Linked DNA regions of Homo sapiens: region 1 is linked to region 2. The links come from fine-mapping of genetic effects on gene expression. A gene starts in region 2. The other region holds a variant in brackets. All regions are shown on one strand. Distances are from middle to middle. Region 1 holds the start of PAF1 (PAF1 component of Paf1/RNA polymerase II complex). Region 2 holds the start of GMFG (glia maturation factor gamma).

Region 1 (8,306 bases), 52 kb after region 2:
TTGTGGAGCCTGCTCAGAAACATTTGACATTTGGGGTGACGCGCAGGGCAGAGAACCTGCCCTCCAGAATGTTATTGAGAGGAGCTGGGGAGAAGGAAGGGGAGCAAGGAGAGGAAGCTCTCTCTCCTCTCCCTGCTTCCCCTTCACCATTCCCCACATTCTGCAAGGACAGGAGCCACCTTCCTCTCTCTCACCTCCCCTGGCCCTGTTCACCAGAGGTTCTCTATGATTAATTTCTTAGGCCTATTTAAGATACATATTTATATAGTTCTTAACGGTTTTTCTCTGATCATTTCCTCTCATTTTTAGAATCCCCAGGTCTCTCTCAGCCAAGACAGTGGCAGGGAGAGCCTGAACTTTATGAGGGGAGAGGGCAGAGCCCCCTCCTCCAGACCCTCAAGCTCTAACCCATTTTCCTCCAGCCCTGGCTACCCGGATGAAGAGGTTGGAGGTGGGCAGCCAGGGTAGCCAGTGAGGTCAGGAAGTCTGTTGCCTTAACGTCCCCTTCCCCACGAACACACACCCTTCTCCGCTCCCAGGTCTGGTTGGTGAGACTTGGGAGTCAGGAATAAGGGAAAGGGGATTGTTTGGTTTTTGGGTTTTTCCCTAAGCCCCTCCCTTTTCTTTCAGCCTTTTTCCTTCCCCCATTATGTCATGACCTCACTTAAGTGGAACACTATATCATAACCCAGAGATTCGTCCCAGCCCCAGAGTCCGACAGACTGTCTGGTCCCTATTCCTAATGAGGGGTTGTGTTGGGGCCCAGGTGGAGGGAGGGGATTTGGGGGTTCAGACTGCGGGGAAGCCAGGGTCTCCCTCTTCAACGCCCTCCTCCCCCTCAACCCACCTTCCCAACTGGGACATTCTCAAGCTTTTCACACCGAAAAGGAAAAAAAATGTTATTTTTAGATACATTTTATGAATAACTTTTGTTATGAATATGGCTGGTAACCATTGTGTATGTTATTAAAGATACAAAATGTTGGGAAAAAAACAAAAAAAACAAAAAAAAAAAAAATTTTAAAACCACCACCCTCCCTGCACTATCACCCCATTCCCCAGACCTTCTTGCCCCCGCCCTCCTGGTCTGTGGACTTCCCTCTGCTCTGAGCCCAGGGAGGGGGAAGAAGCCAGGGGGTAGGGTGGCCCTGGGAACCTGGCTCTGGGTCCCCACTTCCTCTCCCAGTGCCGGGCTGGGTGGGGTGTCAGGTTTATTTATGTACCTCTTGCACACTCATCAACCTATGCAAGTCCCCCACCCCGGCCCTCCATGTTTCTGTGCCTTTGCTCATCCCCTCAATCTCCCAGGGCTTCTCCAGTCCCCCTCCCACTAGCTGCAGGAAGTGGGATGGATGGGCCACCTCGTTTGGAATCAGCAGGGTGTCCCTCTCATGGGACCCTCCCCTCTCCCCAGCCTGTCCTGTCTTGTTCACTCTCCATCAGGGTGAGCTGACTGTGCCTGGCACTGGGAGGTGGTGAGGGACACCGTCTCACACACACAGGGAGGCAAGAGCTGCCCCCCACCCCACCTGACAGCAGAGTGTGCAGGACGCAGGCGGCCCCACTCTGATGGGCAGGACCCTGACCCTCTCCCGCTCCAGCCCCCTCCCCAGGCCCTCCTCCATGATTTCACCCTCCCTACCCACTTCTGTCCCCGGCCCCACTGGCAGAATCAGCTTTGAGTAACTGTACAGTTTTTCTCGCTGTTGGAGAAGACTTATTTGTTGGAGTTTCACTTGTTTAATGGTCTGGGCTTATTTTGGAAAAAAAAAAAACAAACAAAAAAAACGAATTCTGACCTTCGTTGTGCTACATTTTGTGGGAAACCATTGGCCCTGCCTCTGGCCTGTGTTTCTAAGCCTCAAGCCAAGATCCTTGAGCACCTGGGGGTTGCGGGAGGTATGTGCTGGGCTGAATGACATCATAGGGGCTGGGAGGGGAAGTAAAGAGAAGTTGACTTTATTAACAGCAAAGGTTTGGGGGTGGGGAACAAACAAGTGAAAGGCTCACAAACAGACCACTAGAAAAGTGCTTTGCTGCTCACAATAATGGTGTCTGAACCAGCCCTGAATGCCCTGGGACTCAGTCACTGTCACTATCAGCTTCACTGGAATCAGAAGCTGCAGCTTCACTGCCATCCTCCTGGGCCGAGTGCTCGCTGCCACTGGGGAAGGGACTGGCGCTGCGGCTGTGGCTCCGGCTCCGCTGGCCACCCCCATTGCTGCCGCTGTCTGAATCATTGTCACTGCCACCTTGGGCCTGTCCTCTGTCCTCATCATCAGAGTCGGCATCGTCCTCAGAATCAGCATCACTGCCAAAGATCTCCTCTTTGTCACGGGCAGCCCGGGCCTCATCCTCGCTGCTCTCGTCCTCACCACTGCCACTCTTGTCACTGGCCTCGTCCCTGTCACCTTCCTCCCGTTCACTCTCGCTGCCCGAGTGCTCATCTTCACTGCCCTCCTTCTCACTGCTGCTGCCCTTCTCCTGCTCCTCATCTGGAAGGGAGTGGAGAGAGATGAAACCCACTTTTCCACCCTCCCAGGGCTCCCAGAGTCTGGCCTGTCCAGATTTACCTGAGCCCCCAGCTTCTTTCTCTTCTGTCTCCATCTCCTCTTCCTCTTCCTCCTCCGGTTCGTGGTTTTCTAGCTGGGCCTTCCGTGCCTCCTGGAAGCAGCAAGATTGGAATGAGGGGAAGGAGGGTGTTCTGCTGGGTTTTTGTCCCCCTCCTCACCTACAACCACCACCCTCCCTGCCATGGGTGCCCTGAGCCAGTGGTGCTTGTTACCTGAGCTTCCAGTTCCTTCTCATTCATGTCCCGATGTTTGACCACAAGCAGGGCGTTGGTGCCTGACTGAACCCCAGCCTTGGCCCGGCGCTTACTAAGGCGGACCCTGCAGGGGGTGAATTTGGGAGAGAGAAGTGGAAGATGCAGTTAAAGACACACCTCCCACTTCCCCGCCCCCCAGTGAGGGGTCTGGTCTGACTTGGTTCCCCATCAATACTTAGAGTAAATGGGAATAAATACAGATTGAATAAGGGCAGCTAAGCTCAAGGTATTGAGGGCAGGGGAAAGGAAGGATGGCTCCCATGGCACCAGTTTGGTTGCCCTACACTGTGTGTGTGTGTTATACGGTGTATTTACATAAATACGGGCATGGGCCATTTAACAGGGACACATTCTGAGATATACATCATGTGAACATCATACAGTACTCTTACACAAACGTACATAGTATAGCCTACTACATACCTAGGCTGTAATGGTGTAGCCTATTGCTCCTAGGCTACAAGGTTGTACAGCATGTGACTGTACTGAATACTGCAGGCAATTGTAATACAATAGTAAGTATTTGTGTATCTAAACATAGAAAAGGTATAGTAAAGATACGGTATTCTATCTTAAGGGACCACCATAAGCAGTCCATTGTTGACTGAAACATGCAGTGCATTACTGTATGTGTCAGTTAGTTACCAACACTTTGAGAAACCAGGAGATGTCAAATCATTTGGATTTGGGGCTTTTGGAAGATAGGAATTTCTGGCCCCACAGCACAGCAACAGTGGGCTGGAAGTGAATAGTGCCCTCCATGGTTGCCCAGAACTCCAGGTCACTCAGATGCTACCAGCCACTGCTCTTTTACATTTCCTGCCTGGCCTATGGGGTCACAGTTCTTGTAATCTCTGCTTTAAACAGAAACTCAAGACTTCCCAACTCTACACCAGAGGTGCTGGCATAGCAGTAAACTTTGAGCCATAAGGGAAGAGTTTTGGAGTCACATTTTTGAACATGGGTTTAAGCATTTCATTTAAAACATTCATGCTAATTTTATATATTACTCCATACTTTGGCAATGTTTACTTTCACATGAAGTCTGTTACTAATACTGGGAAACTTGGCCCTCTGCCTTGCGCAAAGGCTCTAAATGTCTCCTGCATTAAGATATTCTGGCTGGGCGTGGTGGCTCACACCTGTAATCCCAGCACTTTGGGAGGCCGAGGCAGGCAGATCACCTGAGGTCAGGAGTTCAAGACCAGCCTGGCCAGCATGGTGAAACCCCATCTCTATTAAAAATACAAAAAAAATTAGCTGGCCATGCTGGCACACGCCTGTGATGCCAGCTACTCAGGAGGCTGAGGCAGGAGAATCACTTGAACCCAGGAAGCGGAGGTTGCAGTGGGCTGAGATCACACCACTGCACTCTGGCCTGGGCAACAGAGCGAGACTCCATCTCAAAAAAAAAGATTTTTTTTCTGGCTCCTCCTGTTAGAACCAAGTCCAGCTCATGTGCATGACCAGACATCTGCTGCTCTTGTTTACCAATGCATATGACAAATTCTTAGGTACAAATGACCTCCAAGGTGGCTCTTGCATGCCCCAGGGTCTTAAGAAGCACAGATCCAGGCTAATCAGATAGGAGTGTGCTGAGTACCTGGTTTCCAACTCATTGTAGTAAACCCCGTCACCCTCTCGGAAGATGAAGAAGTAGTTTTCCTCATAGCCCTTGCTAGCTTTGTTCTTCACGTTCCAGTTGTACTCCCGAGCAATTTTGTAGTCATACCTGAAGATGAGGGCACAGGTTCAGCCCCATTTCTTCCCTATCCCAATCCCCAAAACTTCCCAATCCCCAAAACTTAACCGCAACCCACGCACACATCATCTGGTGCATAGTCCATCTCCTCCTCCTGGTCCCGCTTTCGTTTCTTCAACGTCTCTTCTACAGGCAGGAAATAGGCCACAAACTGGTTCCCTTCCTCATCCATCATGCCCCTGGTTGGGGGAAAAGGAGTAGCAATGAAGTGTGAGGACAAGAGGCAGCAAGGAGCAGGCCAAGGTGGACAGCAGGACCACCTACCTAATCATGGCCTGAGACATCATCTCCAACGCAGCTGCACCACTCGTGTCCTTGGGGGCTGGGTCTGAGTCAAAGATCACCTGAGCACATGGATTGATCCACATCTAGGGAGATGGAGGCACTGGGGTTAGATGGGAACAGGCACAAATAGGCTGTCCCTTTCTACCTCCCACCTTGGGCCTGACCTTAAAGTCTGGGAAGACAGGCATGACCTCCACCGGTGTGACTCGGGGTTTGCTGTAATGCTGTGAGATCTGGTGG[A/G]ACAAAAACAAGGTGAGGAGGAGCTCTGCAGCCGCACCCTTGCCTCTCCCCATCCCAGTCCCTCAATTACTGATTTCTGGGCATCCTCAAAAGTCTTCTCAATGGCTGTGATCTGGCTATCCCTGTCTTTGTATATTTCTTCCTCGGTAAACTGCTGCTTCACAGAAACCCCAATCCTAGGAATGAAGAAAAAGGTCCTTAGGGGCCACTGGACACACCTAATATCTCCACCTTCCCTCTCTTCCTGTTAGTAACTTACTTGACCTCAGGCTTCTCATTGGAGATGCCATAACGGTTGAACTCAGTGGAGATGTACTCTGTCTTTCGCATCCATGGCACCACCTTCGCGTGCTGCTGGGATCTGGGGTGGGAAATCAGGTATCTCAGGACCCCACTGCCCTCCTGCTTGTAGGGCCCACCTGAGCCAGTCTCCAGTACCCATTTGCTACCCACTCACCTCTTGGAGCTGGTGGGGGCCTGAATCTCCTCTTCCAAAAGTTTCTCATCAGCTGGATCTAGAAGAACTAGAGGAGAGCGGGGGGCAGGAGGACCATGAGGGAGGCCCAGGCCTGAGCCTTTGCTGACCTAGAGCAGACCCTCCCTGTCTCCCCACACACCATTGGGGTCGATGCGGTAGGTGTCAGGATTGATGAGATCGATGGTGACCCCCAGGTCTGGCTCAGTCAGGAGGTCATGTTTGTGCTGTTTCTCCAAGGAAGTGGCTTTGTACTGGACGAACCTGGGTGGGGAAACACCTATTGTGGTGTTTGGATTCCAGCTTCACCCCTCACAGCCCTGCTTCCCAGAGGCGGAGCTTCTCTGGGGAGGAACTCAGAATGAAGTGTCCCCCATGGCAGAGTCTGAAAGCTGGCTCCCCAGTGGGAAGGGACTTGGACACTGCTTGCTCCATTAACAATTGAGCAGCTACTACTATGTGCTAGGGTAGGTACTGTGCTAGGCCCTGAGCAGACAGCAGCCAACGAGACAAGCAGTCCCTGCCTTCAAGGAACTCATACCTGAGTAGTTTTCCCATTCCTTAGTCTCACCTGTTCTGGTCGAAGGGGTAGGTGATGAACTTGGGGTCGAAGGGGATATCAGGGAGGCTATTGCAGTACTTGACTCGGCAGACCACTCCAGACCTAGGAACATTAGTGGCTCAAAAGTGGGCCCCCGCTGCCCCACCTCTGCTCCCAGCCCCACTGCCCCACCGCTCCTGGGAAAGCACAGTGGGGCTCACCTCTCAGGCAGAGTCCGGTGGGAATTGGGCCTAGTGGAGAAGAAAGAAACAGTGATAGGTGGAGAGGACGGGATTGACAGGAGAATGAAAAAGGCTTCCCCAACCTTTCAAAAGGTAGGAGGGGTGACAAATGCTGGTTTCTTTGGGTGGTGGTGTGGGGAGTGTCCAAATGCTTTAATGGAAGGAGACAAATGTTCAATTTATTTAGGAAGAAATGCCCCCAAAAGCTTTAATGAACAAGGCCAAGTGCTCAATCCCTTTTGCAGGAGATGGCTTCAAGTGCTTTAATAAAGAACCATGTACTCAATCGTCTTCGGAAGAGGGGTCTCCAAACGGTTGACTGGAGGGATCCCTTCTGGAGGGAGTCTCCAAAAGCCTAATCCCTGAACTGCACGGCGGGGAGGAGGGGAACACCTGAATCTCAGAAGGAACCCGCCCCCTTCGTCAAAGGTGAGCGCTTCATGACGTCACGGGCAGACCTGGGGGCTGGTGACGTTGTTCAGCAGAAACCCTCTCCCGATCCCCCGCCTTGCTGCAACAGAAAAGCGTGGCGCCTACCTGTGGCCATCCTCCCGCTGGGCCTGGGTCTGGATGGTGGGCGCCATAGCGACGAGGCGACGGCAGCCCGGACGGGGTCCTAGCGGGACCGAAGGGGGACGCAGAGGGGCGTGCCGACTTCAGGGGACGCCTGATCCGAGGAAGGCCCAGCTTGGCGCCGCTCCCCGCGGAAAGTGGGTTGAGATGAGGTGGGCGGGCGAGAAGAGCTCCAGCGAGACTCAGGTGAACGCGCAGGCAGCACCGGGGACGGACTCGAAGCTCCGGTTCCACCAACTGCCGCCAAGACGCTGAGGACCCAACGGGTCTCCTCAGGCCGCGACGCCTTCGGGGAAATGAAGTCCGGCTCGGAACCACACACGGATTGGCGAGCGTCTGGGTGAAGGGCGGAGCGAGGGAGAGAGGTGCTTCTGTGATTGGTGGAGAGATATCTCAGTCTGGACGCAGATTTGAGAGTGACGTAACGTTGGGGCACCTCCTTCCCCTCCATTGGCTTAATTGCCTAGGGGGCGGGACTAACTAGCAAACGGGGACTAGAAATAGGGATGCTGAAAAGCAACGGGGAGAGACGCAGTCGTAACGCACTTCCGGCGGTCTACGCGAGGAAGATGGCTGCATCCCAGCAGCAAGCTTCAGCGGCTTCCTCAGCTGCTGGTGTATCGGGTCCTAGTTCGGCTGGCGGCCCGGGTCCCCAGCAGCAGCCGCAACCGCCAGCACAACTGGTGGGCCCTGCCCAGAGCGGCCTCCTGCAGCAACAGCAACAGGACTTCGATCCTGTGCAGCGTTATAAGATGCTCATCCCGCAGCTGAAGGAGAGTCTACAGGTGATTGGCCTTAAGCAGCGAGAAGCAAACTGGATTTGGTAGTCTAGAGGGGCAGGCCGAGGGCCAGGTTAGTCGGAGAGAGCGCTAAGCAGAAAGAGGAATAGAACCTGCTGTTTTGGCCTGGCTGGTGCACGCCTGTGTTCCCAGCACTTTGGGAGGCCGAGGCGGGCGGATCACTTGAGGTCAGGAGTTCAAGACCAGCCTGGTGAAACCTCGTCTCTACTAAAAATACAAAAATTAGCCGGGCATGGTGGCGCGCGCCTGTAATTACAGCTACTCGGGAAGCTGAGGCAGGAGAATCGCTTGAACCCAGGAGGCGGAGGTTGCAGTGAGCCGACATCGTGCCATTGCACTCCAGCCTGGGCAACAGAGCGAGACTCCGTCAAAAAAATAAATAAATAAATAAATAAAACTGTTGTTTTCTGCGAGACCTAAGCGAAGCTCGGCAGAGATGGGATCAGCGCTGATGCTGAGGCTGGGACTGGCCGGAGCTTGAGTGAGGGGTTGTTTAAAGGAGAAACTGGGCTCTGGTCGTTAAAGCCTGAGGAGAGTACTGGCTTATACGGAGATTCTGCC
Region 2 (8,322 bases):
CACTTGCAGCCTCAGCTTCCTGAACTCAACTGACCCCCGACATCAGCCTCCCAAGTAGCTGGAACCACAGGCACATGCCACCATGCCTGGCTAATTTTTTTTTTTTTTAATAGAGACAAGGTCCTCCACCAGGCGCGGTGGCTCACGCCTGTAATCCCAGCACTTTGGGAGGCCGAAGCAGGGATCACCTGAGGTTAGGAGTTCGAGACCAGCCTGGCCAACATGTCTCTACTAAAAATACAAAAATTATCCAGACATGGTGGTGGGCCCCTGTAATCCCAGCTACTCAGGAGGCTGAGGCCAGAGAATCGCTTGAACCCAGGAGGCGGAGGTTGCAGTGAGTCAAGATCGCGCCACTGCACTCCAACCTGGGCAACAGAGCGAGACTCTGTCTCTAACAAAAAAAAAAAAAAAATAGAGACAAGGTCTTGCTATGTTGCCCAGGCTAGTCTCGAACTCCTGGCCTCAGGTGATCCTCCCGCCTCAGGCTCCCAAAGGGCTGAGATTACAGGTGGGAGTCATAGTACCTGGCCAAAATTTCATTTTTAAAAAATGATGCCAGCGTAATGTTGAAACAAAAACTCAACAAAGTTTGTACAAAAAAAAAAAAAAGACTCTTAAACCGGTATCATAAATAATCGGTATAAAATTCTGCAATAAAATATTGCTATACAAACAAAAAGTTCTAGAGTATGAACTCTTGGCCTCAAACACAGAGATTCTTTTTTTTTTTTTTTTTTTTGAGATAGAGTCTCGCTGTGTCACCCAGGCTGGAGTGCAGTGGTGTGATCTCAGCTCACTGCAGCCTCTGCCTGCCAGGTTCAAGCGATTCTCGTGCCTCAGCCTCCCAAGTAGCTGGGATTACAGTCACATGCCACCACGCCCAGTTAATTTTTGTATTTTTAGTAGAGACGGGATTTCACCATGTTGGTCAGGCTAGTCTTGAACTCCTGACCTCAAGTGATCCACCCTCCTTGACCTCCCAAAGTGCTGGGATTACAGGGATGAGCCACCTCACTCGGCCAAACACAGAGATTCAAAGTCCATGAATAGGGCTGGAACTCCAGCAGTCCCTTAGCCTATACCTCCAACATCACCCCTCCCCTCATGGCCTGATCCAACCCTTTCTTCCCCCAGGATACCTGGGCTGTCTCTCCGGCAACTCCATTTTGAGCTCCTCTGGGGAAATGTTCTGAGGCAAGAAAACAGAAGAAAAGACAAAGAATGAGGCAGGGCGCAGTGGCTCACACCTGTAATCCCAGCACTTTGGGAGGCCGAGGCAGGCGGATCACAAGGTCAGGAAATCATTCAGACCATCCTGGCTAACAGGGTGAAACCCGTCTCTACTAAAAATACAGAAAATTAGCCAGGCATGGTGGCATGCACCTGTAGTCCCAGCTACTCGAGAGGCTGAGGCAGGAGAATTGCTTGAATCCGGGATGCAGAGGTTGCAGTGAGCCGAGATCGCGCCACTGCACTCCAGCCTGGGAGACAGAGTGAGACTCCATTTCCAACAAAAAAATTAGCCAGGCGTGTTCAGGAGGCTGAGGCAGGAGAATTGCTTGAACCCGGGAGGCGGAGGTTGCAGTGAATCAAGATTGTGCCATAGCACTCCAGCCTGAGCAAAAAAGATCGAAACTCCGTCTCAAAAAAAAAAAAAAAAAAAAGAATGACCACCTTTAGGTGAGCACTTACCATGTGCCAAGGCATCGTTCTATGAAACACACATGGATTAATTCATGCAACTATCCCGTAAGTCTGTGGGGTAGGTCCCATCATTATGCCCACTATACAGCTGAGAAAACTGAGGCCCAGAGGTGTTAAGGCATTTGCCCAAGATTGCACAGATAGAAAGCAGCAGAGTTGAGATTTGAATCTGGGTTCGAATCATAACTGCTTCACTATACTGCCTTTCAGAGGGCCTGAGAGAGCCCCAGCCCCCAGTCTCCATGGATTCCCTTATAAATCCTTATCGCAACACTAGAGAAATAAGCCTTATTATCATTCTTGTTATTGATAAAGACAGTGAGGCCACCAGGGGGGTGAGGTCTACCCCCTTTTTTTTTTTTGTAGAGATGGAGTCTTTTTTTTTTTTTTTTTTTTTTTGAGACAGAGTCTGTCGCCCAGGCTGGAGTGCAGTGGCACGATCTTGGCTCACTGCAAGCTCCGCCTCCGGGGTTCACGCCATTCTCCTGCCTCAGCCTCCCGAGTAGCTGGGACTACAGGCACCCGCCACCACACCCAGCTAATTTTTTGAATTTTTAGTAGAGACGGGGTTTCACCATGTTAGCCAGGATGGTCTCGATCTCCTGACCTTGTGATCCGCCCGCCTCAGCCTCCCAAAGTGCTGAGATTACAGGCGTGAGCCACGGCACCCAGCCGAGATGGGGTCTTGCTTTGTTGCCCAGGTTGGTCTCAAAACTCCCAGCCTCAAGCAACCCTCCCACCTCAGCCTCCTGTGTAGCTGAGATCACAGGTGCACACCACTGTGCTTGGCTAATTTTTGTATTTTTAGTAGAGTTAGGGTGTTACCATGTTGCCCAGGCTGGTCTTAAACTCCTGGGCTCAAGTGATCCTCCTGCCTCAGCCTCCCAAAGCGCTGGGATTACAGGCATGAGCCACCATGCCTGGCTAGCTTTTTAACTTATATGGAAACTCTTTCATTTAAATGCCAATAAAGCATTATTATCATCATTATTAAGATCATCATCACCTTATTGAGCACATACTAAGTGCCAGGCCTTGTTCTAAACCCATTACAAGAATTAAATCACTGGATGTAAAAACAAGCCTATGAGATAAGTACTATTCTCCCCATTTCACAGATGAGGAAATAGAGACACAAACAGGCAAAGTCTCTTGCTGGGGGTCATGAGTGAGCTAGAACTTGATCTCCAGGGTTTTTTGTTTTTTTGTTTTTTGTTTTTGTTTTTGAGACAGAGTCTTGCTCTGTGGTTCAGACTGAAGTGTAGTGGCACAATCTCGGCTCACTACAGCCTCCATCTCCCGGGTTCCAGCGATTCTCCTGCCTCGGCCTCCCAAGTAGCTGTGATTACAGGTGCCCACCACCATGCCTAGCTAACTTTTTATATTTTTAGTACAGATGGGGTTTCACCATGTTTGCCAGGCTGGTCTTGAACTCCCAACCTCAGGTGATCCACCTGCCTCGGCCTCCCAAAGTGCTGGGATTACAGGCATGAGCCACTGTGCTCGGCCAATCTCCAGGTCTTTCTACCCCCATGCCAGGCTCTTCATATCAGTTCCAACCACTTGGTTCTCCCAGTCTCACCCTGTACCTCCCAGTCCCAATCACCCCAGCCCATCACCTGAAATTCTTCCTCCAGCACCACCATCTGCCGGTCTTTGTCCACCTTCACTGGGGAGGGGTGGCACACAGGGATTAGACACTCCCCCTGATCCATGGGGGACACAAGCCCAGCCCTCCCTATCTGCCCTCACCACCGCCCTCCCATCCTTCTGTGGGGGAAGATGTCACTCACTTATGATGGCTGCATTGTCTGTCTCTTTTCGGAAGCGGAATTTCCTCAGCTTTTCTGTTAGCTCTGGGTCTACCTCGCACACCACCAGGGAGTCAGACTGCCGGAGGGACCCAGGAAGAGCTGAAATGGCCTGGCCTCAGCCCTCACCCCTTCCCCAAACCTGTTTCTCCATCCACTAATGAAGAGGAGCATCGCGCCGGCCCATCTGATGCCTTTGTGAACATTGAGAAAAGGCACCCTTCCCACAGAGTAGATACCCCTCACCAGGGCACTCAGCTTGGGGGGCGGAGCAGAGGCTGGGTTCCCGCCTTCTCCACGGGGACTCTTGGGGGACACTCAAGGAGGTGCAGAGATCCACTTCCTGAGCCTAAACCCAGAGCCACTGTCTCTCTGTTCTTCCAGCCGGGCTGTTCACCACAGTTGGGCCCCCTTCCCGGCCCGTGACCTCCATCCCATAGCCTGACCTTCGCCCAGGTGTCCTCCAAGCCCCAGCCCCAACCCCAGCCCCAGCTCTTCCCATAGAACCCCTGGCCCCTGACCATGATTGTTCTGTCCACAGGCCTCTTCTTTTCTTAGTTCCGCTGTCTTCTAGGCGTGGGGACCGGGGCTGTAGGGGGGCGGGCTGTGCAGTAGGAGGAAGGTTTCATCCAACACCACATCCTGTTTATGCCCTTTCTGGGACAACTGTCACAGAGGGCTCCTCCCCCTCCTTCCTTCCCCTCATCTGCCAGGACCTGTCAGGAAATCGCTCAGACCAGGGTTCCAAAGCTTCCTTGCTGTGTGACCCTAGCTAAGTAACTTCACCCCTCTGATTTGAGATTGTGGTGAGGATATAAATAGCTTCACATCGGCCGGGCATGGTGGCTCACACCTGTAATGCCAGCACTTTGGGAGGCCGAGGCGGGCGGATCACCTGAGGTCAGGAGTTGGAGACCAGCCTGACCAACATGGCAAAACCCCATCTCTACTAAAAATACAAAATATTAGCCTGGCATGGTGGTGCACGCCTGTGATCCCAGCTACTCGGGAGTCTGAGGCACAAGAATTGCTTGAATCCGAGCAGCAGAGGTTGCAGTGAGCCAAGATCACATCATTGCACTCTATCCCAGGCAATAAAAATACAAATAAATAAAAATAAATAAATAAATAGCTTCACATAGCTGCCAGCATGGCAGACACAATAGGTACTAAAAACGAACTATTTTGCTCCTCCCCTCCTCCAGGTGGCCTTCCTAGATTTACCCCCATCTGGGATATTTGAATTGCAGGGCTGGAAAAGGGGAGTTTAGTCTTTTGCTGGTCAGACTGACGCCCATTATGTCAATGGCAAAATGGGGACCAGAGGGGCAACCCCACAGTGCCTGGGTAATGGTGACTTTTTTCCTGCACTTTTCCAACCTCACTAGCCTTGCAATGACCTATGAGGCCCTACAACAAGGGAGTTCAATCCCGTCAGACCGGTACCCAATTTTTTTTTTTTGAGACAGGGTCTCACTCTGTCGCCCAGGCTGGAGTGCAGTGGTGCGATCTCAGCTCACTGCAACCTCCGCCTCCCAGGTTCAAGCCATTCTCCGGCCTCAGCCTCCCAAGTAGCTGGGACTACAGGCACGTGCCACTACGCCCGGCTAATTTTTGTATTTTTAGTAGAGATGGGGTTTCACCATGTTGGCCATGTTGGTCTCGAACTCCTGACCTCAAATGATCCACCTGCCTCAGCCTCCGAAAGTGCTGGGATTCCAGGTGTGAGCCACTGTGAGCCACCATGCCCGGCTATTTTTTTTATTGAGTATTTTTGCACTGCCCCCTTTTCCCATCCCGAAATAAAATTCCTAGATAATATAACCTACTTACACACATAAATTCAAAAAAAAATCAATATAATGTCCTGACTGTCATATAAAGAAGAAATAAAAGGAATGTAGTTCACACAAAAACCATATGTATTTCAGTGAGAAGATAAAAGCAAACAAAAGACAATTTCCACAGGGTCCTAGGCCAACTGTGACTGGCCCACTTCCCTCCATGGTGGGCAAACCCCGGACCCTACACTGGACTCTACCCCTTCACCTACATCTCTGCAGCTGTCCTCTCTCTCCCTCTTGTCTCACCAACGTCCCCATGCCTCCTGGATCTTTCTCCTTAGCCTCCATGCAGTGTTACTTCTTCCATCTTAATTTTTTTCTTTTCTTTTTTTCTTTTATTTTGAGACAGGGTCTCATTCTGTTACCCAGGCTGGAGTGCAGCGGTGTAATCATGGCTCACTGCAGTCTCCAACTCCTGGGCTCAAGCCACCTTCCCACCTTGGCCTCCTAGGTAGCTGGGACTATAGGCACGCAACACCATGCCTGGCCAATTTTACTTTTGATTTTTATAGAGACAGGATCTCGCTATGTGGCCCAGGCTGGCCTCAAACTCCTGGCCTCAAGCGATCCTCCTGCCTCAGCCTCCTGGTGTGCAGGGATTACAGGCGTGAGTCACTGTGTCTGGCCTCTTCCATCTTAAAAACATAAAACTGTATCTCCTGTCCAGCTGCTGCTCACTCATTTCCTTCCCTTTTCTGCAAGATTTCTCAAAAGAGGCCGGGCGTGGTGGCTCATGCCTGTAATCCCAGCACTTTGGGAGGCCAAGGCGGGTGGATCACGAGGTCAGGAGATCGAGACCATCCTGGCTAACAAGGTGAAACCCCGTCTCTACTAAAAATACAAAAAATTAGCCGGGCGTGGTGGCAGGTGCCTGTAGTCCCAGTTACTCAGGAGGATGAGGCAGGAGAATGGCGTGAACCCAGGAGGCGGAGCTTGCAGTGAGCCAAGATTGCGCCACTGCACTCTAGCCTGGGTGACAGAGTGAGACTCCTTCTCAAAAAAAAAAAAAAGATTTCTCAAAAGAATAATCTACATTGCTGCCTCCAATTTCTCCTCCCAGTTTTCTCTTCTGCCTTCTCCAATCAGCCTTTCACCTGTATTCCTCTCAGCTGACATGCCCTTGTCAAGGTCACCCATGCACTCCACGGTGCTGGATCTAATGGTCAATTCTCACTCCTCCTCAGCCACATCTGACACAGCCCATCACTCCCTGTTCCCTGAAACATCGTCTTCATGACACCACACTTGCCTGGTTTTCTTTTTTTCTTTTCTTTTTTTTTTTTTTTGAGACAGGGGTCTCGCTCTGTCACCCAGGCTGGAGTACAGTGGCACCATCTCAGCTCACCGCAACCTCCGCCTCCTGGGTTCAAGCGATTCTCTCACTTCAGCCTCCCAAGTAGCTGGGATTACAGGCGTGAGCCACCACACCCGGCTAATTTTTTTTTTTTTTTCTTGAGATGGAGTGTCTCTCTGTCACCCAGGCTGGAGTGCAGTGGCACAATCTCGGCTCACTGCAACCTCCACCTCCCAGGTTCAAGCAGTTCTCCTGCCTCAGCCTCATGAGTAGCTGGGATTACAGGTGTGCGCCACCACAACCAGCTAATTTTTGTATTTCTAGTAGAGACGGGGTTTCACCATGTTGGTCAGGCTAGTCTCGAACTCCTGACCTCGTGATCAGCCCACCTCAGCTTCCCAAAGTGCTGGGATTACAGGTGTGAGCCACCGCGCCTAGCCATATTTTTGTATTTTTAGTAGAGACAGGGTTTTACCATGTTGGCCAGGCTGGTCTCAAACCCTCCCATGGGCCAGACACAGTGGCTCATGCCTGTAATCCCAGCACTTTGGGAGGCCAAGGCAGGAGAATTGCTTGAGACCAGGAGTTCAAGACCAGCCTGGGCAACATAGCAAGACCTTGTCTCTACAAAAAAATTTTAAAAGTAGCCGGGCATGGTGGCATGTGTCTGTAATCCCAGGTACCAGCTACTTGGGAGGCTGAGGTTGGGAGGATCACTTGAGCCCAGGAGTTTGAGGCTGCAGTGAGCTAGGATCACACCACTGCACTCCAGCCCAGGTGACAGAGTAAGATCCTATCTCTAAAAACCAAACAGCAGGCCAGGCGCAGTGGCTCACGCCTGTAATCCCAACACTTTGGGAGGCCGAGGCAGGCAGATCACTTGAGTCCAGGAGTTCAAGACCAGCCTGGGCAACATGGTGAAACCCCATCTCTACTAAAAATACAAAACTTAGCCAGGTTTGATGGCATACGGCTGTAGTTCCAGCTACTCCAGAGGCTGAGGCAGGAGAATCACTTGAACCCAGGAGGCAGGGGTTGCAGTGAGCCGAGGTTGCAGTGAGCCGCGATCGCACCACTACAATCCAGTCTGGGCAACAGAGTGAGACCCTGCCCCCCCCCCCCACACACACACACACACACACACACACACACACCAACAATGACTAAAATACTAAGTTATCTGTCACCACCCCTACCCCATTGCCTCTTGGACCTTGTCCTTCACTGCCCTCTTTTGCTCACTCCACTCCAGCAATGCTGGCCCCTTTGTGGTTCTGTGAATGATCCTACTACATGGCCTTTGCACTTGCTGTTTTCTCTTTCTGGAACCCACTTTCTCCTTCATTCCTTCAGATTTCTGTTTCAGTCTCACCTAATGAAAGAGGCCTTTCCCCATGTAAATTAATTCTGGCTGCATTACTCCATTCCCTTAGCTGCTTTCTTGTTATTTATTTGTTTATTTATTTAGAGACATAGTCTCGCTCTGTCACCTGGGCTAGAGTGCAATGGCAAATCTCGGCTTATTGCAACCTCCGACTCCTGGGTTCAAGTGATTCTCCTGCCTCACCCTCCTGAGTAGCTGGAACTACAGGCACGCATCACTATGCCCAGTTAATTTTTGGCATTTTTAGTAGAGACAGGGTTTTGCCACTTTGGCCAGGCTGGT

Evidence for each region.
Region 1: its variant is fine-mapped to the expression of GMFG in whole blood (TOPMed, PIP above 0.99).

Annotation. Positions count from the first base shown.
Region 1 is chr19:39,383,909-39,392,214 of GRCh38, forward strand. It overlaps SAMD4B (sterile alpha motif domain containing 4B), which reads left to right. Exons shown (of 14, transcript NM_001384574.2): 14 at 1-1,792. It overlaps PAF1 (PAF1 component of Paf1/RNA polymerase II complex), which reads right to left and starts at 7,198. Exons shown (of 14, transcript NM_019088.4): 1 at 6,910-7,198; 2 at 6,352-6,381; 3 at 6,161-6,253; 4 at 5,732-5,853; 5 at 5,572-5,638; 6 at 5,374-5,475; 7 at 5,185-5,290; 8 at 5,039-5,107; 9 at 4,854-4,957; 10 at 4,652-4,768; 11 at 4,431-4,559; 12 at 2,786-2,891; 13 at 2,574-2,664; 14 at 1,721-2,495. The coding sequence starts at 6,956. The coding sequence ends at 2,083. MED29 (mediator complex subunit 29) reads left to right here and starts at 7,470. Exons shown (of 4, transcript NM_017592.4): 1 at 7,470-7,730. The coding sequence starts at 7,515. RefSeq lists a silencer at 5,856-5,987 and an enhancer at 7,525-7,814. The variant A/G (reference allele first, on the strand shown) is at 5,115.
Region 2 is chr19:39,331,935-39,340,256 of GRCh38, forward strand. It overlaps GMFG (glia maturation factor gamma), which reads right to left and starts at 4,109. Exons shown (of 7, transcript NM_004877.4): 1 at 4,040-4,109; 2 at 3,501-3,597; 3 at 3,327-3,376; 4 at 1,143-1,192. The coding sequence starts at 4,042.